Linked DNA regions of Homo sapiens. The protein of the gene in region 1 binds, or shares a complex with, the protein of each later gene. Each region holds a gene or a part of one and is shown on either strand. Other genes may lie near its edges. The genes, in order: PTPN11 and GAB1.

Evidence for each region.
Region 2: the proteins of PTPN11 (region 1) and GAB1 are in contact, whole or in part, in a crystal structure (PDB 4QSY), measured with the Homo sapiens proteins. Residues at the interface, in NP_002825.3 of Homo sapiens: Gly13, Val14, Glu17, Arg32, Pro33, Ser34, Lys35, Ser36, Thr42, Arg47, Thr52, His53, Ile54, Lys55, Leu65, Gly67, Gly68, Tyr81, Gln87, Leu88, Lys89, Glu90, Lys91, Ile96; in NP_002030.2 of Homo sapiens: Lys623, Val625, Glu626, Tyr627, Leu628, Asp629, Leu630, Asp631, Leu632, Asp633.

Annotation. Positions count from the first base shown.
Region 1 is NC_000012.12:112,420,206-112,432,099, forward strand, and holds part of PTPN11 (tyrosine-protein phosphatase non-receptor type 11), read left to right. Parts: intron 1-11,894. UniProt on the Homo sapiens protein: Acts downstream of various receptor and cytoplasmic protein tyrosine kinases to participate in the signal transduction from the cell surface to the nucleus. Positively regulates MAPK signal transduction pathway. Dephosphorylates GAB1, ARHGAP35 and EGFR.
Region 2 is NC_000004.12:143,330,205-143,342,871, forward strand, and holds the start of GAB1 (GRB2-associated-binding protein 1), read left to right. Parts: upstream 1-6,671; 5' UTR 6,672-6,984; coding exon 6,985-7,056; intron 7,057-12,667. UniProt on the Homo sapiens protein: Adapter protein that plays a role in intracellular signaling cascades triggered by activated receptor-type kinases. Plays a role in FGFR1 signaling. Probably involved in signaling by the epidermal growth factor receptor (EGFR) and the insulin receptor (INSR).

The DNA.
Region 1 (11,894 bases):
GTATAGTCACTCTATATACCACTCACACTTAAGACCCATTGTCTATTCTTTTCCATGATTGTTCAATTATGGTCACTGTCTCAGACATTTAAAAAACGATTCAAGCTATTGAGGCTATTTGAATGAGATTTTCTTTTCTTTTTTTCTTTTTTTTTTTGGAGACGGAGGCTCACTCTGTTGCCCAGGCTGGAGTGCAGTGGCGCAATCTCGGCTCACCACAATCTCCGCCTCCTAGGTTCAAGCGATTCTCCTGCCTCAGCCTCCCAAGTAACTAGGACTACAGGCGCACCACTATGCCCGGCTAATTTTTGTATTTTTAGTAGAGACAGGGTTTCACTATGTTGGCCAGGCTGGTCTCAAACTCCTGACCTCGTGATCCGCCCGCCTTGGCCTCCCAAAGTGCTGGAATTACAGGCGTGAGCCACCGTACCCAGCCTGAATGAGATTTTTCAAAATATTAGGAATGTCTCCTCCAAACACACCTGGCATGTTATTCATACATGGATCTGGAATTTAAAAAGGGGAGAAAAAGAAAACTGAGAACTCGTAGGAAGTGAGTGACTTGGACAGGTCGGTTGGCAAGTGCTTACAGATCTGGGTAATATATAACTGCATTTCAACAGAACAGTGTATAGCCTCAAATGTTCTAATTCTTTAGGGAGCTTTTAAATAAACAGTTGTCTATTCTTTAATCTGTCAAATAGTCATTGAGCCTTTTGTTCCTGGTGTCTGCTCTTCCAGACAAGTAAGGATCTGCTGCTTTAGGAGACATCAGACGGGGCTGGGGGTTGGGAAAAGGTCTGGGTAGTAATAGACCCTACATTGTCCAGTTTGTTCATTTAGAAGCATAGAAGTGTGGGCATAGTCAAAGTAGCAAGTGGTAAAGATGACAGTTTGAAATGGAGTAATTCCTTCTCCCCTCCAGCCCTGGTATTATGCACCACCCAAAAAGCCGGGTTATGAACATAATACACATAATTTTGAATGATTCATTATTTTTTGGATTATAAGCCTGTTTTATTTGTTAACCAGCCTTAATGAGGTATAAATGACATGCAATTAATTGCATATATTTAAATGTACAATTTGATCAGTTTTGACATACATATACACTTGGGAAACCACCACCATAGTCAAGATAATGAACACATCTATCACCCCTGGTAATTTTGCCTTATGTTCTTTATAATCCTTCCTTTGTTCTTAGGCAGCCACTATTCTGCTTTCTGTCACTATGTATTAGTTTGCATTTCCTAGAATTTTATTTTTAAAAATTTTAAAATTGTTTGAATAGAGATGGGGTCTCACTGTGTTGCCCAGGGCAGTCTCAAACTCCTGGGTTCAAGTGATCCTCTCACCTTGGCCTCCTGAAGTGTTGGGATTATAGGCATGAGACACCCTGCCCAGCCCTAGAATTTTATTATTATTGTTATTATTGTGTTTTTTTGAGATAGGGTCTCACTTTGTTGCCCAGGCTGGAGTGCAGTGGTGCAATCACTGCAGCCTTGTTTTCCTAGGCTCAATCCATCCCCCCTCCTCAGCTTTCCGGTTACTGGGGCTACAGGTGTGCACCACCACACCCGGCTAATTTTTGTATTTTTTTATAGAGACAGGGTTTTGCCATGTTGGCCAGGCTGGTCTCAAACTCCCGGGCTCAAGCGATCTTCCTGCCTCGGCCTCCCAAAGTGCTGGGATTACAGGCATGAGCTATTGCGTCCCGCCTTCAAATTACTTTAACCTAGTATTAATTCATTCAACAGGAAGTTAATGAGCCAGGCAGGATAAAGCAGTAAGATAGGAAAATATTGCTATTTTCATGGCTGAGAGAGAGCAGACAAACACATGACTAAATAGGGCAATTTCAGGTAGTAATAAATTCTAGGAGGGAAAAAATCCCACAGAAATGTGAGGATGGGAGAATGCAGTTAGTTTTGATAGGTGGTTTAGAGAAGGTGATCGTGTGAGCTGACACCTGAATGACAATTAGTAGTCTGAATTTTGTTTTGCTTAATTATCAAAATAACTCCTCTTGGGTTCGGCTTTTATATGCATCCAGTAATTAAAATGTAAGTATATTCAATGTACTGATATCTCTCAGCATCATAGGTAGGAAAACTAAGGCATTCAGCAATTAAGTGACTCCTCCCTTGATCATGTAGCAGTGATAGTACTGGATTTAGATTTTGAGGTTGCTTCTCTGCCCTTTTCTGCCTTTGTGAAACCAACAAAGCTGCCTGTATTTTCCAACTCTTCCTTCAGCATGTGGTACCTCCTTTACATCTGTTTTTGTTGCTCTGAAATCCATACGCGACGATGAGCTGAGAGGGGCAGAAAATTGAGCTTGTTCTGAGACTGGAGGCTTTTGGTTTATCTCTTGCAGGTCAAGTACATTTTGTCCTGGGCTCTCCCTGGTGGCCACGTTTGTTTATCTCCTGCGGGAGTAAATAAACTTGCCTTGCTGAAAAATAACAGTTCTGTGTCTTTGCAGTGGAAACTGGGATGTCTTTATTAACGTTAGGTCCTGATGTAAGGCCAAGTTTTTGGTTAGAGTTGCTCAAGTGCAGAGGCCACTGCTAAGATGACTTACCCCTCGTGTCCATGGTCAATGTGGAGACTGTTATGAGTGGCACATGATGCTGGAAAAGCAGAGCCAACTCATGTTTGTAATTGTCCTAGCAGGCCGTGGTGTACTTTGTTAGGCAGCCACAGAACAATAGAGAAACTCAGCTTATTCCCCTTCCCTCTGGGAAACACAGACAGTACTTGCCATCCAACGCCAATGTTTTTAAGGAAGAAAGAGGCAAAAAGTGATGTTGGCAAGGTCTCTGGGAGTTGTGGACCCCAACCAAGGATTGGAGACCCTGAAATGGATTCAGATGCCCTAAAATGCAGCCCAGTTCATTACTATGAATTTTGGAGGACTTTGTGCCTTGAGCAAATGTGTATATGTGACGCTCTTTGACAACACTGAAATAGGAAAAATACTATCCATGTTCGCGAGGAGCACTGAATTTAGAGAGGGAGACAGACTTTTATGCCAGCATCAAATGAATTTGATAAAGCTAGTACCAAAATGAAATTTGAAATTTTTTTTTTTTGAAATAGAGTCTTACTCAGTCACCCAGGCTGGAGTGCAGTGATACAATATTGGCTCACTGCAACCTCCACCTCTTGGGTTCAAACAATTCTTGTGCCTCAGTCTCCTGAGTAGCTGGGATTACAGGTGCGTGCCACCATGTCTGGCTAATTTTTATATTTTTAGTAGGGATGGGGTTTCACCATGTTGGCCAGGCCGGTCTTGAACTCCTGGCCTCAAGTGATCTGCCCACCTTGGCCTTCCAAAGTGCTGGGATTATAGGCATGAGCTACCACACAAGCCTGAAATTTGAAATGTATTGGTATAGAATATACTGTTTAGAATGTATGTGTATATATGTATATTTGTATACTCATATAAACACAAATACACATTGTATGTGTTTCTGTAATATGTATATCTGTCTACACATACATGTATATACACACATACAATGTCTTTTTTTTTTTTTTTTTTTTTTGAGACAGGGTCTTACCCTGTTGCCCAGGCTGGAGACTGCAGTGGCATAATCTTGGCTCACTGCAGCCTCGACCTCCTGGGCTCAAGTGATCCTCCCATCTCAGCCTCCTGAGTAGCTGGGACTGACTACAGGCACGTGGCATCAAACTTGTCCAATTTTTCTATTTTTTTGTAGAGTTAGGGTCTTGCTCTGTTGCCCAGGCTGGTCTCAAATTCCTGGGCTCAAGCTGTCTGCCTGCCTCGGCCTTCCAAAGTACTAGGATTACAGATGTGAACCACTGTACCTGGCCTTTACAATGTCTATTTTAAAGATAATGGTTCAAGTTTTTATCATCCCACTGGCCTACTCTAATGAAACATCTATCCATTCATTGAAGAATTATTTATGGTGGGATAACTCTGTGCCAGGTACCGTGCTAGGCATTGAGTATTCCAGGTTTTAGGAAACAGCACATGCAAAAGTGCTGAAGTGGGAGAAGATCTCGGAGTGATTGAAGGCTAGGAGAGAGCAAGTGTGGGAGCTGTGAGGCTGGGAAGGTGGGAGGTAGGTGGGAGCAGACCACATAGGGATTCTTAATGTCTTTAGTGTCATGTGGACCATGGAGAGGAGTGTAGATTGTATTTTTAGAGCAATGCAAAATCATAGAAGGATGTGATCGGGGGAGTGGCATGAGCTGATCTATTTAAAAATATTTCTCTGGCTGCTGTGAAGGAAGGATTGTAGGAGGCAGGAGTAGATTCAGGGAGATGAGACAAGTGATGAGAGAGGCTTTGAACTTGGGTAAAAGTAGTTTGTGGAAAGTCTTTTTTGGAGGTAGTTTTTGTTTATTGCCTTGTCATCAAAGCAGAGATGCTGACCAATGAAACTCCATGAGAAAATAGTGATTTATAAAGACATATCTATGCACTGCCATTAAAAAGCTGCTTGGAAAAAAAGGATAAAAAGCTGCTTTAACAACTTTTTTTTTTGAGATGGGGTCTTACTCTGTCACCCAGGCTCACGACCTCAGCTCACTGCAACCTCTGCCTCCCAGGCTCAAGCATTCTCCCACCTCAGCCTCCCGAGTGGCTGGGACTGCAGGCACACGCCACCATGTCAGGCTAATTGTGTGTGTGTGTGTGTGTGTGTATGTGTGTGTGTGTGTGTGTGTGTGTGTGCTGGGACTGCAGGCACACACCACCATGTCAGGCTAATTGTGTGTGTGTGTGTGTGTGTGTGTGTGTGTGTGTGTGTGTGTGTGTGTGTGTATGTAGAGATGGGGTTTTGCCATGTTGCCCAGGCTGGTCTCAAAATGTTGCCCAGGCTGGTCTCAAACTCCTGAGCTCAGGTGATCCACCCGCCTCGGCCTCCAAAGTGCTGGAGATTACAGACGTGAGCCACTGTGCCCACCTAACAACTTTAAAAAAATTTTGACATTTAGTAGGATATTTATTGCATTATTGTTGAGATGGCAAAATATTGGAGACAACTGAAATGTTCATCAGTGGGGGGGGCTAGTTAAATGAAATACAGTGTAGCATGCATTAGAACACTTTTCAAGAATTTAACTTTTTTTGTAGCCTTTTACTTATAATGCTTGTCCCTATTGATGCCTTTTTTTTCAGCATGACTTACTCTTTTACTATAGGATATTAAAATTTAATTAGATTAGAAATGAGGAATATTCTTGTAATCTGTAGAAAGTAACAAACTATAAACTTATTCCCCAAGAACAAATATAATAATTTTTCTGGAGTAGCAGGTAAGAAAGATATAAATTTATATGTATACAAGAAACTGAAATTAGACTTTATACATTTAAAGGTTACAAGTGCAGTTTTATTACATGAATGTATTATCCAGCATTGAAGTCTGGGCTTTTAGTGTAACCAGCACCTGAATAACATACATTGTACCCATTAAGTAATTTCTCATCCCTCAAACCCCTCCCACCCTGAAATTAGACTTTGGATCCCTAGTTTAAATTCCACCCCTCTCTTTTTTTGAGACAAGGTCTCACTCTGTCACCCAGGCTGGAGGGCAATGTTGCAATGATAGCTTACTGTAGCCTCAACCTCCTGGGCTCAAGGGATACACCCTCCTCAGCCTCCTGAGTAGCTGGAACTGCAGGCGTGCACCACCACATTCAGCTAATTTTTTGATTTTTTTATAGAGATGAGGTCGGAACTCCTGGGCTCAAGCGATTCTCCCCAAGTGCTGGGGTTACACACATGGGCCACTGCCCCCAGCCTAAACCTCCTTTCTCAGTATAGCAGCCTTGAGATGAAGTTCCTGAAATTACTGGCCAGCTTGACTGTTTCCCCACATCACTGGAGGAGGGGGATGCATAGATAAAACAAAATATTCAGCATCATTGTATTTTCTTTTTGTTTCATCAGCATCTTTTTTTAAAACTCACTTGACATAAGTCCCTAGCCTCAAAGAGTAAAGCCTTTGCAGAATCTGCATTCAGATTTCGGGTGTGATTTCCTGACAGATAGTTCAGGTTTGTAAACTCTTTTTTTTTTCTTTGAGACAGAGTTTCACTCTTGTAGCGCAGGCTGGAGTGCAGTGGCACCATCTTGCCTCACTGCAACTTCTGCCCCCTTGATTCACGCGATTCTCCTGCCTCAGCCTCCTGAGTAGCTGGGATTACAGGCATGCGCCACCACACCTGGGTAATTTTTGTATTTTTAGTAGAGATGGGGTTTCACCATGTTGGCCAGGCTGGTTTTGAACTCCTGACTTCAGGTGATCTACCTGCCTCAGCCTCCCAAAGTGATGGGATTACAGGTGTGAGCCACCGCAGCCGGCCAAAACTTTGTTTTTTTTCCTCTTTTTGTTGCTGAGAAATGTAAACTCTTACAGACACAAATTATGTCTCCCATTTTTTAAAACCCACTCAACACAGGGGTCATGTGTAATAGGCCCTGGAGCTTATTTTAGACATTGATTTGAGGCTCTTTTCCCCAAGTGCTGGTTTGTGTGTGTGTGTATGTGTGTGTAAGTCTTTCTATGAGATGAGTGGTACCTACCTGGGCTGTGTGATCTTTTTTATTTTATTTATTTTATTTTTGTAGATACGAGGTCTCACTATGTTGCTCAGGCTGGTCTTGAACTCTGGGGCTCAACCTATCCTCCCTCCTTGGCCTCCTAGAGTGCTGAGATTACAGGTGTGAGCCACTGCACCTGGCCAGCGATCCTTAATAAATATAGATAATGGCCGGGCGTGGTGGCTCACACCTATAATACCAGTACTTTGAGGGGCCGAGGCTGGCAGGTCACCTGAGCTGAGGAGTTTGAGACCAGCCTGGGTAACGTGGGTGAAACCCTGTCTCTACAGAAAATAGAAAAATTAGCCAGGTGTGGTGGTGCATGCCTGTAGTCACAGCTACTTGGGAGGTTGAGACAGGAGAATTGCTTGAACCTGGAAGGTGGAGGTTGCAGTGAGCCGAGATCGTGTCTTTGAACTCCAGCCTGGGTGACAGAGTGAGACCTTGTCTCAAAAAAAAATATAGATATAGGCTGGGCGTGGTGGCTCACACCTGTAATCCCAGCACTTTGGGAGGCCGAGGCGGGTGGATCAGGAGGTCAGGAGATCGAGACCATCCTAGCTAACATGGTGAAACCCTGTCTCTACTAAAAATACAAACAATTAGCCAGGCCTGGTGGTGGGTGCCTGTAGTCCCAGCTACTCGGGAGGCTGAGGCAGGAGAATGGCGTGAACCCGGGAGGTGGAGGTTGCAGTGAGCCGAGACTGTGCCACTGCCCTCCAGCCTGGGCGACAGAGCGAGACTCTGTCTCAAAAAAAAAAAATCTATATATCTATATATCTATATCTATATAGATATAGATATAGATAATGCCAGATGATGGCTGGTTAGAAGGGATTGTCAGGGGCTGGCAGGTTTTGCAGGTGTTAGAATGAGCAAGATGAGGAGAAGGATGCTTACTTCCCTCTCCTTGTAACTCTCTACCCCCTCCCCTCAGTGTTTTTTTATTTTTATTTTTATTTATTTATTTTTTTTGAGACAAGGTCTTGCTCTGTCACCCACACTGGATTGCAGTGATGCAATCATAGCTCATTGAAGCCCAAACTCCTGGGCTCAAGTGATCCTCTTGCCTCAGCCTCCCAAGTAACTGGGACCACAGGTGCGTACAACTATGCCCAGTTAAGTTTTTCATTTTTTATACAGACGGGGTCTTGCTATGCTGTCCAGGCTGGACTTGCACTTCTGGCTTCAAGTGATTCTCTTGCCTCAGTTTCCCAAAGTGCTGGCATTATGGGCATAAGCCACTGTGCCTAGCCCATCAGTGTCTTTTTATCCTTTACTCCTATCAAAATTCATTCACTCAGCAGCCATTGATCAAGTGCCTACTATATACATGTTGAGGACTGGAAATTTATTTGTCTCTTCTCATCTTATCTGGACCCTCTGTGTTAATTGTAATTAACTGTAATCATTCTGTATTAATTGTAATAAACTTGTTGATAAACTCAAATGAGGCCATACCGTTTTGCCACTTCCCCTCCTTCCAGGTTATATGGATGTACTTACATTGCAGGTTTCATTTGTTGGTTCAGTTTTTAAACTAAGCCCTATTGTGTCAAATTATGCTAGGTGTGAGATGGGGAGTTCAAGCTGTGTGTTGTCTTTTTTTTTTTTTTTTTTTTTGCCTCACTTACTAATATACAAGCGCTTATAACCTTTGAGGCTGGCCCTATACATTAAGATTTTTATTAATTCCACTGTTCTTTATCTTCTCTTACTAAGTTCTCAGGGTCGAATGAACTCTAACTGCTCCTTGCTAGTGATAAGCAAGTTGCAAATTACAGAATTGTCAGTGATTGAATACACGTATTAAACCTGTAACTGGGAAGCATTTTTGGTAATTATGAATACTTTTGGAAAAAAAAAAGCTATGGAAGGAAAGTTTAAAATCTACGAAAGCTCAAGTAGATGGTCATGGAATAGCTATTTCAATTTCTAACTATATATTACTTATTTATTTATTTATTTTTGAGACGGAGTTTAGCTCTTGTTGCCCAGGCTGGAGTGTAATGGCGTGATCTCAGCTCACTGCAACCTCCACCTCCCGGGTTCAAGCTATTCTCCTGCCTCAGCCTCCCGAGTAGCTGGGATTATAGACATGTGCCACCACGCCAGGCTAATTTTGTATTTTTAGTAGAGACGGGGTTTCTCCACATTGGTCAGGCTGGTCTCGAACTCCCAACCTCAGCTGATCCGCCTGCCTCGGCCTCCCAAAGTGCTGGGATTACAGGCGTGAGCCACCGCGTCCGGCCTCTTAACTATTGTTTGAAATAATGTAGAGACAGCTCCAGAGCCATGAAGAAGTGTATGAAGAAGCAGTGTTAGCTTAAATGACATACATGTCACAATTGCCTATGTGAAACTATCATAATTATGCATGAGAAGTATCTATCCTGCATAACCTCCACCAATAATAATAATGTTAATAATAGTGAAAACTAATGTTTATTAAGTCCTTACTGTCTCCAGCCTCTGTGCTAAATACTGGTTACTAAGTTTCCCTGAAAATACTATTCTCATCTGTTTGTTCTTAATAACAGGATAGCATAATTGTAAGTTGTAAATGAAATAATACAGTTTATGTAATAAAAGGGTAAAAGAGAAGACCACCTACCTTATCTTCTGTTGCTGATCTGGATGGATGTAGGTGGTGTTTACCTAGTTTCACCTTTGGCAGTTGAAACTACTTTTTTTTTTTTTTTTTTTTTTTTTAAGAGACAGGGTGGGCCAGGCGCAGTGGCTCACGCCTGTAATCCCCGCACTTTGGGAGGCTGAGGCGGACAGATCACTTGAGGTCAGAAGTTCGAGACCAGCCTGGCCAACATGGTGAAACCCTGTCTCTACTAAAAATACAGAAAAATTAACTGGGTGTGGTGGTACACACCTGTAATTCCAGCTACGTGGGAGGCTGAAGCAGGAGAATCGCTTGAACCCGGGAGTGGAGGTTGCAGTGAGCTGAGATTGTGCCACTGCACTCCAGCCTGGGTGACAGAGCAGGACTCCGTCTCAAAAAAAAAAACAACAACAAAAAAAGAAATTTTTAGAAATATGAGATGACAGCAAGAATGAGGGTATTAAAAAGAAATTTTTAGAACTAAATAGCAGAATGTAATGGTGAAAAGTTTGATTTCTCAAGTCTGCTTTGCACACAGGCATGTGGCAAACATTCAGTAAGTATAGCTGTAATTTTAACCAGCTGTAATGTATAATAGCCAACATATCACATTTTTCTTTTTTCTTTTTTGAGACAGAGTCTTGCTCTGTTGCCCAGGCTGGAGTGCAGTGGCACCATCTCGGCTCACTGCAACCTCTGCCTCCTGAGTTCAAGTGATTCTTGTGCCTCAGCCTCTCAAGTAGCTGGGATTACAGGTGTGTGCCACCACACTCGGCTATTTTTTGCATTTTTAGTAGAGATGGGGCTGGTCTTGAACTCCCAGCCTCAGGTGATCTGCCTGCCTCAGCCTCCCAAAGTGCTGAGATTACAGGTGTGAGCCACAGCGCCTGGCCATATATTGCTTTTTTCTTATTATCAGAGCCAGTTCATAATTGTGGAAAAATAGTGTTTGTAACAATGTAAGTATGGATAAATCATCTTTTTAATTTTGTGATTCATATAGGTTTGTTGTTGTTGTTGTTGTTTTGTTTTTATCTTGAGACAGAGTCTTGGTCTGTCACCCAGGCTGGAGTGTAATGGCACAACCATGGCTCACTGCAGCCTCAGATGCCTGGGTTCAAGCAATCCTCCCGTCTCAGCCTCTAGAGTAGATGGGACCACAGGTGTGGGCCACCATGCCTGGGTAATTACAAAACTTTTTTTTTTTTTTCTAGAGATGAGGTCTCACTATGTTGCCCAGGCTGGTCTCAAACCTTTGACCTCGCTTCAGCCTTTAGAGTAGCTATGACTATAGGCATGTGCCATCACCCAGCTAATTAAAATTTTTTTTCTTTTTTTTTTTGGTGGAGATGCGGTCTTACTTTGTTACCCAGACTGCAAGTTAGTTTCAGATATCAACATTTGGTGTTTCCAAATGCACGGGGAGGCTTTGGAGCAAGTTTTTGGCTCATATGCATAGGTGTCCTAGACATTCACTTTGCAAATTCTTATTAAAATGACTACAGTAGCATACAGATAGGGAAAAATATCCTTGTCAGTACCACCGATTGGGTGAGAAGAGACTGTATATTAAAAACAATGACCATCTTTTTGCCACATAAATTGCTGGTGGGGCCAGTTTGAAGAGGGCTTTGTCAGCTGCCTTCTGCCTCTTCCTCTTGAGTACGTGGAGTTGGAGTCATCCTTGACAGCCTCCTGTTGACACCACCCGGGTCACAGATGTGAAACTGTGTGGATGTAGGAGAGAGCAGTGATGGGGCTTACCCCAAGGTTGCTCTTCCTTCCCTCTGGCCACAAATGTTTAGTAAGGAACTGCTCTGTATTAACCATTTGCTAGGGGCTGCAGATACGGTGGTGAAGAAATAGACATGTTCCTACTCGGGATGCTGAGGTGGGAGGATTGCTTGAGCCCAGGAGTTGGAGCTGCAGTGAGCCATGATCACACCACTGCACTCCAGCCTGGGGGACAGAGCGAGACCCTATCTCTAAAAAACAATAAAAGAAATAGATGTGTCCTTCACCCTCATGGAACTGCCAGTCTAGCCTTCAACCTGGTGACTGTAGAAATGTGTGATTAGATGCTATATTGCCATGTTGAGTGTCACCCCTGAGAAGCAGGGTTTTTTTTGAGAAGGTAGGATGGGGGATCTGACTGTGGGACCACCAGAGGGAAAAGCACATGTAAAAGCTGCGTGTACCAACTGGAGGAAATCGGAGACGTGATCAGAGAACCAGAGTCAACCAGGGGCCATGCCGTACAGGGTCCTGTTAAGATCTGTGACTTTTTTCTAAACGTTTTCTTCTGGATAACATCTAAATTTCTAGTTCCAAATGTGAAACTCCAAGGGCGTTCTGTGCTAAACATTTTGCATGTATTAATTAATTTCCACCACACAACATTGCTGTGAATTAAGACAGTTTCTAAGCATGGCAAGAAACCCAGAAATCATAATGGAAAAATCTGATAAATTTAACAATGCCAACATGAACCTCTGTAGGAAAAAAAATACCACAGACTAAAAAGGGGGGAAAAAAACCAGAGACAAATATTTGCAACACATACAGTAAAGGGTAATTTTCTGGTTATATCAAGAGCTCCTACAAATCAGTAAGAAAAAAAATCTAATAGGAAATGAGCAACGACAAACTGACAACTCATAGAAAAGGAAACACAAGTGGTCTGAAAACATG
Region 2 (12,667 bases), on another chromosome or scaffold:
GAGTTCGTCAAATCCTGGAGCACGAATTTTTACGCTACAGGAATAAACAAACTTATTTCTTGTTGGCAAAAATGTGTTGATTGTTATGGTTCCTCTTTTGATTAATAAAGATGTGTTGGAGACTAGTTATGATGATTTAAAATTCGCAGTCCAAAACCCTAATTACTTTTGCACCAACCTAATAGGTTACAAGAGCTCTGCCCTTATAAATGGAACTGGTGCCCTTATACAAAAGGCCTAGGGCAGCCTGTTTGTGTCTCTTGCCATGTGAGGACACAGCAAGAAGGCACGATCTATGAGGAACAGGCCCTCACCAAACACTGGATCTGCTGGTACCTTGATGGAGGACTTACCAGCATCCAGAATTATAAGCAATAAATGGCTATTGTTTATCTATTACCCAGTCTAAGGTATTTTGTTACAGCAGCTTGAATGGTCTAGGTCACTGGGTGGCAGAGACATCCATAAAGCTAATGAAGCTTCAGCTCAGGGCCTGTCATTGCACAGGCCTCTTGTGAGAGTGGGGAGCTTCTAGGAGAAGTGGAGTGTCCTAGTGGAGAGGGGGTGTCAAGCTGTACTCAGGAAGAATATGTAAGGATTCTGGTAAATTACCTATAAATCTTAGAAGAAAGACATCTGCATCTCCAGGGCTTCGGGAATTTGTTGGTGATTTATTTCCTCATTCTAAATACATATTCATCCAAATTTCGTATTTGTAATTGCATTATTTTCGTTAAAAAGACTCCCCAAACTATATAAACTTCTGGTCCCAGGACATGAAGATTTGCCCCTGCAGAATAATTTTGTATCTATCTGAGGTCACTGAACATGAATTTACAGTGATGTCACTCATCCTGTTCTGCGACTTGCTCCAACAGCACTTGGCTGGTTGTGTGCAGAAGAAAGTACAGTCAAGCTGGGCATGGTGGCTTAGGCCCGTAATCCCAGCACTTTGGGAGGCCAAGGCAAGTGAATCACTCGAGGCCAGGAGTTTGAGACCAGCCTGGCCAACATGGCAAAACCCTGTCTCTGTCAAAAAAATACAAAAATTAGCTGGGCATGGTGGTGTGTAGCTGTAGTCCCAGCTACTGGGTGGGCTGAGGTGGGAGAATCACTTGAACCCAGGAGGCAGAGGTTGCAGCGAGCTGAGATAGCACCACCACACTCCAGCCTAGGTGACAGAGTGATATCCCATCTCAAAAAAGGAAAAAAAAAAAAAAAAGAAAGAAAGGACAGTCAGGTTTGTCCAGAGTTGGGGTTTTGTGAGATAGGAATGTTTACTGAAAATGTGGACCACAGAATTTAAGCTGGATAAGGAGAAGGGAGTGAAGAAAGGAAATGTCTGATAGATCACGGGAAAGCACAAGTCTTAATAGACTAGAAAAGCTGTTGAGAAGAAGGAATAATTACATAGGGAGATATTGAAAAATCAAGTTGAAAGATGTATAGCTAAAGTGGGATGCTGGAAGGGAATAACAAAATGCACAAAGATGATTGCTTGAGGTGATTTGGATAGATTTTTCTTTTTTCTTTTCTTTTTTTTATTTTTTTTTTGAGACAGTTTCGTCTTGTTGCCCAGGTTGGAGTGCAATGGCGTGCGATATCGCCTCACCGCAACCTCTGCCTTCCGAGTTCGAGTGATTCTCCAGCCTCAGCCTCTGGAGTAGCTGGGATTACAGACATGCGCTACCATGCCCGGCTAATTTTGTATTTTTAGTAGAGACCGGGTTTCTGCATGTTGGTCCGGCTGGTCTCGAACTCCTGACCTCAGGTGATCTGCCAGCCTCGGCCTCCCAAAGTGCTGGGATTACAGGTGTGAGCCACCTCGCCCGGCCTGATTTGGATAGATTTGAATGTCATAGGAGATGAAATGGTCATTTGCTTCAAGAAAATGTCTAAATCTGAAGATCTCCAAGGACCTGCACAATCTGTCCCTTGCCTGCCTCTGTACCTCAGCCAGTGCCAATGTCTCCATCATTCACCCCACTGCTGCCTTCATTCAGTTCATTAAATGCTCCTTCCAGCCTGAAAACCTGTACACCTGCACCTTCTCTTTTGTCTGGAATACTCTCCCTTACTATGTCCACCAGGCCAACTTCTTCTTATCCTGAGGATCTCAATTTAAAGCCTGAATTTCCTGGCGGGCGCTGTGGCTCTCACCTGTAATCCCAGCACTTTGGGAGGCCAAGGCAGGTGGATCACCTGAGGTCAGAAGTTCAAGACCAGCCTGACCAATACAGTGAAACCCCGCCTCTACTAAAAATACAAAAATTAGCCGGGCGTGGTGGTGCACGCCTGTAATCCTAGCTACTTGGGAGGCTGAGACAGGAGAATAGCTTGAACCCAGGAGGCGGAAGTTGCAGTGAGCCAAGATTGTGCCACTGCACTCCAGGCTGAGAGATAGAGTGAGACTGCGTCTCAAAAAAAAAAAAAAGTCTTTTCCTCAGGGAAGTCCTTCCCAACCTACCGCCCTACTCCTGGGGGGTACATCCTCTGTTATATGCCCAAACAACACTATATTTTCTTCCATAGCATTTATCAACTGTATTGCCAAAATGATGGGGTTAATTATCTGCAAAAGCTTTTCTCTAGGAAAGAGGAGTGTGGGAACAGGTCTGGCTTTCCCCTACTGTATCCTGGGTCCTCAGGGACTGGCATATAATAGGCATCCCATAAATATTCGTTGTATGAATAAAATTTAAGATACTAACATATAATAACTTTTTCCAGCGTGCCTTTTAAGGCATAAAGATATAAAATATGATTTAACAAATAATCTAAACATGACATATAAAAATAAGGCAAATTTCCTTTCTAAAATATATACATGGAGACATATCTATCTTCAATTTCTCTTCAACCCTGATTTAATTTCTAGAAATACAAGCCTAAAACAACTCAGTAGAAGATAGGAAAAACACTTAAAGATTTTTTACATAGGAATGAGATAACTGAATGCCTTATTTGAAATAAAGAAAAAAATTTGTGGAAATTCCCAAAGCTAAATAATACAAGATATATTACAATTTTCCATTTACAAAGAACTTTATAACAAGAGTGTAGGAAATGGTAAATTTGCTAAAGCCAATAGTTAACTACTCAACAATACTAGTCTTACTAATGCTAATTATACTTTTGGCTCAATGTAGCTACATGCTGCCTATGGGAGAAGAGGAAAACAAATTTGATGGTTTATTTTCATTTGGAAGATTTGTGGCATGATTTATATTCACATACTTAAAAAGAAGTGCTTTGGTTTATTAGCTGCCATAAAAATTACGCTTGTTTATGTTTCAGAAAGAACATTAAGAAATACAGCAACAAACAGCAAAAATCCTACAATATCTAATATGTGCCTGATATTTAAAACTACCATTTCTTTTTTCCTTTTTTTCGAGACAGACTCTCACTCAGTCACCCAGGCTGGAGTGCAGTGGCCCTATGTCAGCTCTCTGAAACCTCCCTGTCCCGGGTCCAAGTGATTCTTGTGCCTCAGCCTCCTGAGTAGCTGGGACTACAGGCACGCGCCACCACACCCAGCTAATTTTTGTGTTTTTAGAAGAGACTGGGTTTTCACCACGTTGGCCAGGATGGTCGCGACCTCCTGGCCTCAGGTGACCTGCTCATCTAGACCTCCCAAAGTGCTGGGATTACAAGTGCAAGCCATCACGCCCAACCAACACTACCATTTTCCTTTTTATTTATTTATTTATTTTTCAGAGACAGTCTCGCTCTGTCTCCCAAGTTGAAGTGCAGTGGCACGATCTCGGCTCACTGCAACCTCCACCTCCTGGGTTCAAGCGATTCTCCTGCCTCAGCCTCCCGAGTAGCTGGGACTACAGGCGCGTGCCACCACACCCGGCTAATTTTTGTGTTTTTAGTAGAGACTGGGTTTCACCACGTTGGCCAGGGTGGTCTCAAACTCCTGGCCTCAAGTGACCTGCTCACCTAGACCTCCCACAGTGCTGGGAATACAAGCGCGAGCCATCGCGCCCGACTAACCGACCAACACTACCATTTCTTTTCTTTTCTTTTCTTTTCTTTTCTTTTCTTTTCTTTTCTTTTCTTTTTTTTTTTTTAGAGACACAATCTCGCTTTGTCGCCCAAGCTGAAGTGCAGTAGCGCGATCTCGGCTCGCTGCAACCTCCGCCTCCCGGGTCAAGCGATTCTCCTGCCTCAGCCTCCCGAGTAGCTGGGACTACAGGCGCACGCCGCCACGGCTAATTTTTTGTATTTTAGTAGAGACGGGTTTTCACTGAGTTGCCCAGTCTGGTCTCAAACTCCTGAGCTCAGGCAATCCACCCACCTAGGCCTCCCAAAGTGCTAGGATTACAGGCGTGAGCCACCGCACCTGGCCAACACTACCATTTCTATTTCTCATTAAACTTCTGCAAAATCGGTGTTGCAATTCCCATTTCACATATCGGGAAACTGAGACTCAGAGACATTGTGTAATTTACCCAAGGTCACGACTACTCAGTTGATGACCTGAAAAGTGCATCCAGATCTGCAAGAAGTTCCGCCCTTGTGATACTGTTAAGTGCCTGCCAAAAGATGACGGTCTCTAAACCCCAGTGGGAACCAGGCTTTTTCAGATTTTTCTTTTTTGAGACTGAGTCTCAATCTGTAGTTTTGTTGACTCTTTATTTGCTTACTACCCTATGCCACTACCTCCATATATGCAGGGATCTTTGTCTTGTCACCACTCCAGCACCTAATTTCTTATTACAATCATCTAACATTTTCAAACTCAGAGGAGCTTCAGAATATGAATGTTGTGTTAATAAGAAAATGACTGAAGTTATGTCTTTCCAGAAATGCTCATTTATGTCGTCATATTTTTAGCACTTTTATCTGATTATATTATCTGCTGAAATTGGCTTTGGGGCTTTTTCACAAATAAATTGGAGAAGATGTTTATTACAGAATCATGTTAAACTCAGGACCAGTATAATAATTGTGAAACACACAAGGAAGTAGGCAAATAGAACTAGGGTACCCAGTAAATTTCCTTCCTTCCTTCTTTCTCTCTCTCTCTCTTTTTTTTTTTTTTTTTTTTTGACGGAGTTTTGCTCTTGTTGCCCAGGCTGGAGCGCAGTGTCGCGATCTCGGCTCACCGCAATCTCCGCCTCCCGGGTTCAAGCTATTTTCCTGTCTCAGCCTCCCGAGTAGCTGGGATTATAGGCGCGCGCCACTACGCCCGGCTAATTTTTGTATTTTTAGTAGAGATTGGGTTTCTCCATGTTGGTCAGGCTGGTCTTGAACTCCCGACCTCAGTTGATCCGCCCGCCTCGGCCTCCCAAAGTGCTGGGATTACAGGCGTGAGCCACCGCGCCCGGCCAAGTGTCCCTCTTCTAGTCCAGCATCCGAACAGTAGATTTCAAACAAATACAAAGTTAAGTGGAATAGGCAACAAATGGAAGGGGTGTGAGACTTCAAAATGTCTCAGAGATAGGACCCAACCAAATCCTTGGCCTCGCCAAGCGCCCCCATCACTCTGGCAGAACAGCTCCAGAGACCAGCCCTGGCCAGCCCTGGGTCCCCATCTGTCCTCCCCTCCAAGCTGGTAGCTCCCGCGCCCTCTTGGTCTGTCCTTTAATCTCGCGCGGCGGGGACCGGCAGGATGGTGGTCTCCCCGCGGTTTTGCCTTTCAGGCTCTCAAGTAAAGAAAACCCTCGAAACTCCTGATCTCGAGCACAGCACAAGCTCCGAGCTGGCACCGGGCTGAGTCAAGATGGCAAGCCCCGGACTGAACATTCGAATGTCCCTCAGTCTTCCCCGCGCCCAAGCCCCGGTGCCTCTGCCCTAGCCGAGGCCTCTGCGGTCTTCCCGGGCGAGGAGCCGATTGGGGGCCGCCGGACGGCGGAGGACCCTGCTCCTGCTTCCCGAACTACAGATCCCAGGGTGCCTCTCGGACTCGCGCTCCCTCCCTCCCTTGCTCCCTCCCTTCGTCCGTCTCCTCCCCCGGCCCTTGTTGTTTTGGCTGGAAGCACTCCGGCGGAGTTTCAGAGAAAGTCTGGGCAGAAACCGGAGCCGGGCCTGAACGTGGGAAGGGGAGGAGGAGAGGGAGGAAGAAGGAGCCCGGCGGCCGGGAGAGGGAGGGAGGGATCGGGATCTGGGGCCGAGCCGCTCAGGACCTGCCGCGAGCCCCGGGGTGGGGGAGGCGGCGGGGGAGGAGCGCGAGGGGACGGGACAGCGGGATCCCTCCCAGGAGCCAAGCCGCCAAGCGCCTCGTTCCTCTGCTGCTCCCCGCCCTCTTCGGCGGCCGCGAGAGCGGACCCACCCTCCGGCTTGACCTGCGACCTCCCTGCGCCCGCCGCTCAGAAACGCCCCGCGCTTCGCTGCCAACCCTGCGGCTCCCTCTGTGACCCGGGACCAGCCCCGCGCCCGCTGCCCGTAGGCGGCTCGCGGCTTCCCCTTTCCTCGGCGTTCACCGAGCGCCGCGAAGTGACCCACCCTCCCCCGAGGAGAGGGAAGGAGGATCGCTCCGGGCGCATCGAAACCGAGGGCGGGTGGGCGGGCGAGCGGGCACCGCGCGGGGCATTGTGTGTGTGTGTGTGTGTGTGTGTGTGTGTGAGCAGCGCTGTGTCTGTTTCGGAAAGCGCTCTGGGGAGGTCTTGTCCCTAGGGGGCGGAGCGCAAAGGACAGAAGCTCCGGCACCGAGTCGGGGCAGAGTCCCGCTGAGTCCGAGCGCTGCTGAGGCAGCTGGCGAGACGGCACGTCTGGAGGCGAGGCGGGCGCACTGAAAGGAGGCCGGCGCGCCCGCGGCCCCGGCTCGCGTTCTGTTCAGGTTCGTGGGCCTGCAGAGGAGAGACTCGAACTCGTGGAACCCGCGCACCGTGGAGTCTGTCCGCCCAGTCCGTCCGGGGTGCGCGACCAGGAGAGCTAGGTTCTCGCCACTGCGCGCTCGGCAGGCGTCGGCTGTGTCGGGAGCGCGCCCGCCGCCCCTCAGCTGCCCGGCCCGGAGCCCGAGACGCGCGCACCATGAGCGGTGGTGAAGTGGTCTGCTCCGGATGGCTCCGCAAGTCCCCCCCGGAGAAAAAGTTGAAGCGTTATGTAAGTAGAGCTGCGGGCACCACTCCGCGGGCCTCGGCGTCCACACCCCTCCCCAGTCGGCTCGCCGGCGGCTGCAGCTGGCCGCGCGCGGGGCTGGTTCTTAAACGAATGCCGGTCTCTTTCCCCTTGGCCCCTACCCCTGGCGGGCTCGGGACAGGGTGCCTTGCACTCCCTCACGCCCAGGCATCCACTTGGCCGGACAACTTTCTTCCTCCAGGTTCCAGACAGCCTGCTTTGCGGGCCTGTTCGCCCCATAAAAGGACCTAGACGTCCAGCTAAACTCCTGCTGCATGCTTTTTTTCTTCCTTAGGAAGGATGGGGTGCGATGGAGAGAGGAGCCTTCTTCCTGCTTTATTCCTGCATCTGATTATTGGGCTGATGTGTGCTAAAGCTCCCGCACCGGGAAAACTGCCGAGGTTTTAGGGCTCACTAGCCCTTTCTTTGGTGGGCGCTCCCTCTCCTCCGCCCCTCGAGATGGGTTGCGGGAAGCGGGCTGTGGAGCTGAGGAGTTGGTAGTAGAGACAAGCATATCGAACGCGCGCAAAAGGGAAAGAAAGAAAAGTTATTACGCGCCCTGCCGTTTGCTTAGCAGGGTTCACATTTTCGCGGTTTTGAATTGAGGGACTTTGGAGTTTGGCCCGGGAGCCTTGGCGGTTTGCTGCGAGAGGAGGGCGCTGGGGGGGAGCCTAGTGGCTGGTGTTTGGGCGCCTTGGATGTGCTGTCAAACTCGGCAGGAGGGGACAGCTGAAGCCAGAAGGGATTTCAGTTGCGGTCCTTTCCCAGGGAACCAGAGTGGCTTTAATGGTGTTTGTGTAATTGATACAAGATGCTATGTGTTAAACCGTTTTAGCTGTTAGGAAAAATATTCCTTGAAAGTATCAACCTTGCTTTAGTGGAAACCTGTGTCCTCTTCAGAGGTCTGGGATCTTATTCTTCCTCCCCATTGGTTGTTTTGTTGCTGCTCCCTTGCAAAGGAAAGAAATGACACTTTTGTGCTGACATCTGGATCAAATATTTTTCTAGTAAAATGTGTTTGCAAAAGCAAAATTTATGCCCCCTTAAATATAATATAAATTTAATGCCTGTACGAAGGGAACCCGTTTGTCGTTGAGGAATATCTACACCCAGTATTAGAGCTCAGGTTAATCCTGTTAGTCACTGTTTGCTTGTATAGAACAGAGTGAAGTACACAGAGTGAAGTATTTAACTTCACTGACAACTCACCAGTGAATTTCTGATTTACTTTCTGCCAGAATTTATTATAGACAAGTAATTTTATTGAAAGACTCGATGCCACAAATCATAAGAAAGCTCTCCAGAGATGTGTAATGCCTCCAAATCCTGTCCATCTATCAGTTTTCCTGAATATCCTAGTAAAAATGCTAACTTTATTCCAAAAATATGAACGAGGCAGTGTTTTTTTTTCCAGCTGTTCTAAAGAGAAAGGTAGGGGTGTGTGTGTGTGTGTGTATGTGACAGAGAAGGAAGGGAGAAAGGGGTAGGGAGATAAATATATTTGTTTTGAGAAGGCCCAATTTAGGAAAAACAGATTCTTGGAGGAATTAAAGAATAACATATTTGCTGAACGTGAAAGTGATAATATAGGTTTAATTCATTCTTTCACATGGTTAGTTCATGGCTCACTCAAAAGACGCCAGGCACTGTATTAGACACCAACCATAAGGTCACAAAATACAGTAGGAAAAAGGAAAAAAGCCCTGCCTCTTGGGCTTAGAATTCAATTGAACTATTAACCAGGAAAGAAATCAGCCAAAAAGATTATGTCTTAACAAGAAAAACAAAAAGGAAAGTATAATTTGATCATTACAACTGTTTTCTGAGGTAGGTGTCATCTCTATTTTACAGAAAACAGTCCTGCATTTGAACCCAGATCTGCCTGATTGATTGGACTGTAAAAGGTTAACGACTCTCACCTAGTTCATTTCAAATGTGGAGCTTAGACTAGGTTATCTCTAAAGGTCCTTCAGGCTCACACCTGTAATCCCAGCACTTTGGGAGGCCGAGGCCAGTGGATCACCTGAGGTCAGGAGACCAGCCTGGCCAACATGGCGAAACTCTGTCTCTACTAAAAATACAAAAAATAGCCGGGCGTGGTGGTGTACGCCTGTAATCCCAGCTGCTGGGGAGGCTGAGGCAGGAGAAATGCTTGAACCTGGGAGGTGGAGGTTGCAGTGAGCAGAGTTTGTGCCATTGCACTGCAGCCTGGATGACAGGGTGAGACTCCGTCTCAAAAATAGCAACAACAAAATAAAGGTCCTTTCAGATTATAACTTTTCCTGACTCTGAATATTAGTTGAGAATACAAGAATGAGGTGGACTATGGATCAGGTGCACAGTGCTAAAGAAATGTAAGACCTAGTCTTTGCCTTTAAGTAGCTCTTTGAGTCTTTGGGACCACGAGACAAGTATATGTGAAAAAGCCAACAGTGCAAAGTGGTATATGACTGTGTGTCTAAGTTGAGTGGTATGGGTATTTTTTGGCTGTTCTGAGGAACAAGTTCAATGTAGACTGAAACTATGGGAACATTTGAGAGAGACAGTGGGCTGCCTACATTGTGTTTTCCACAGGAGGATGAATGTGCCTAATAGCTTGGGAGAAACTAGGATTTTCTTTGCCTGGTGTAGCACTGGTGTTTTCTTTACCCACGAATAAAGTAGATGGAGATAGTCCTGGAAGACAGTAGACAGGGCGGCTGTCAGAATAGAGGAAACCAGCATGGAGTGTAATGAGTTAAATAAGGCTTATTTAACTGTCAGGTTAAATAAGGCTTGTATTTTACCTGTCAGGTTGGTGGCCCAGAAGATTTTGACATTCCCAGATTATTGATCTTTTGGCTTTGCTGTCCAGTTTAGATGGTTTTTGCTAAAGTAGCTTTGACCATCAAAGATATAGACATGTATACGTGCATTTCCTATGCTTGTTTTTTTTATGTAGAATGTTTATTTTTCTGGATAAAGGAAACATTGTTGGCCACCCAGTAGGCAAAATGTTTGTGGATAATGATTTGTAATGAATGGATTTGCTATGAAAAGATATCTTGGATGCTTGATACTATAATTATTAAATGAGACTTCAGGGAGTTTGAGCATCATGATTCTGTTTGGAAATATTTGGCCCATGGGACTTTGACAGTTGTCTCACTGTTTACAGCATTTATAGGGTAGTCCGAACACTGATTAAGATGATCCATAAGGGCTTTTAAGTGACAAAAAAATTGTTTTAGTTTTTTTTAATTAATTTTTTTTTGAGATGGAGTCTTGCTCTGTCACCCAGACTGGAGTGCAGTGGCACTATCTCGGCTCACTGCAACCTCTGCCTCCCAGATACAAGCAGTTCTTCTGCCTCAGCCTCCCCAGTAGCTGGGATTATAGGCATCCCCCTCCACACCCAGCTAATTTTTGTATTTTCAGTAGAGATGGGATTTCGCCAGGCTGGTCTCAAACTCCTGACCTCAGGTGATCCACCCACCTCAGCCTCCCAAAGTCCTGGGATTACAGGCATGAGCCACCACGCCTGGCCTTAAATTGTTTTAGTTTTAGCTTTAAAGCCATCTCATATATGGCCCCCAATGTATTCCATTTACAGCTCCGTTTTATGTTTACTGTTTCATAGTCAACTCAAGCAGGATTGTTTTTTGTACACGCTAGTGTGTTAGTCTGATGTGTAAGCTTTTCTTGAATTTTCTAAAGAATGACACACAAAAAAATGAAAGTCAAGAGTAGTCAGCAGATTCCCCAGCTTTTCCTTCTCTTTTTAATTTTTTCTATATTCGCAAAAGGTTCTTTCTTGTATGTGTTTCATTCTCCTGGAAGTTTTTAAAATCTACTTAAAATGTAGGTGAAAATTTTAATGCTTCTTTTCAGGGTTGCTACTGTGGTGTTGCTGTTTTCATGCTGTGTTATATATTAAACAGCTGCTTTTTTACTTTGTTAAGGACCTGATGGAATCATAAACAGATTACTGTCACTAGGATTACAGAAAACAAGTAAAGTCTTGGTAGTATGCACTCAACAATGGTGCTCAGATTTTTAAAGAATTATTTAAAGAAATGATGGTGAAATTTTCATCAGAACCTGAAATTTTAGCTGAAATAAGATGCAAGTCTGTAAATAAAGTATTGTTTCAAGACAGCTGGCTACCACCATCGCTCTGGAGGAGGAGCTTCCTTGCCTGAAGCCCAAACACTAAGTTTGGGCTCCTCCATAGCCCAGCTGTCAGCATTGGGCAGGTGCACAATCTCAGCAGGAGAACCTGCTTCTGAGGCCAGAGCAAGGTGGCCTGTTAGCTGACAGCCAGCCTGGTAGCAAGGCCCCAGCCAGTTCTTAGGTAGGTAATCTGTACCCAGCGTGGGCTCTCTGTCTGCTCTGCAGCTGTCAATTAACAGGACAACTCTTGTCTGGACTTCAAAAACACACCCCTGGTTCTGGAAATGGGCCTAGAAACAGAAATAGCCTCTCCTACTGGGTGGGCACCTGACATCTGACATGGAGGAGAGGGGCGTGGGCAGGCCAAGTGTCAGCATCTCCTTGGTTCAAGGACAACCCAGGACCTGTGCTAAGCATGAAACCCCTGCTCAATAGTGTCACTACAACAAAGAGGACTGTCATGTCTAGAAGCTCTTCCTATCCTTTTTTGACAATTACCACTAGCAATCAATGGATTCTGATGTTTCTGCTTACAGTGACTGAATAAGCATAATTATTCTATTGAAGGAAATTTTTTCTTGCCATCCTCATGTTAGTAAACATAATTCAGACTCCCAATGTTTTTACCTTTTCAAGTGTAGCAAGAATGTTTTTTCTGTTAACAGAGATCATCAACTTGCAATTACATTAAGCCTTTATGATGGTTAATGATAGTTCATTTGTTGTGCCTGGGCTGAATGATAAGTGTAGAACTCTCCACGTGCAACTTGCTGAATCTCCAAATCTGATTGCTACCTTTTGAGATTCAGAATTACTGTTAGGAAGGTGCATTAGTTTGGAGGGGGTAGTTTGAGAATTCTGCTGGCTCTTTAAAATTATTTTTTTAAGAGATCATCTTGGAACAAAAAGTGGCAAGAGTTATAGTTGGATAATCTGTTTGACAAGTGACTGGTTATTTCAGTGTATTTTGCCATAACCTGCTTAAAAATGTAAGGAGTAAAACACACAGCGTTTTTTGAGAGTAAGTAAAATCCCATATTTTAGACTTAACATAAAAATATGTAGATAAGCTATTGACAATTTGCAGACTGAGAAAGTTTCAGAGGTGATAGATTCTTTTTTTTTTTTTTTTTTTTTTTTTTTGAGATGGAGTTTCGCTCTTGTCCAGGCTGGAGTACAATGGCATGATCTTGGCTCATGGCTCACTGCAACCTCCATCTCCCGGATTTAACTGATTCTCCTGCCTCAACCTCCCAAGTAGCTGGGATTACAGGCTCCTGCCACCACGCCCGGCAAATTTTTTTTTTGTATTTTTAGTAGAGATGGGGTTTTGCCATGTTGGCCAGGCTGGTCTCGAACTCCTGACCTCAGGTGATCCGCCCGCCTCAGCCTCCCAAAGTGCTGGGATTACAGGTGTGAGCCACCGTGCCCAGCCAGAGGTGAT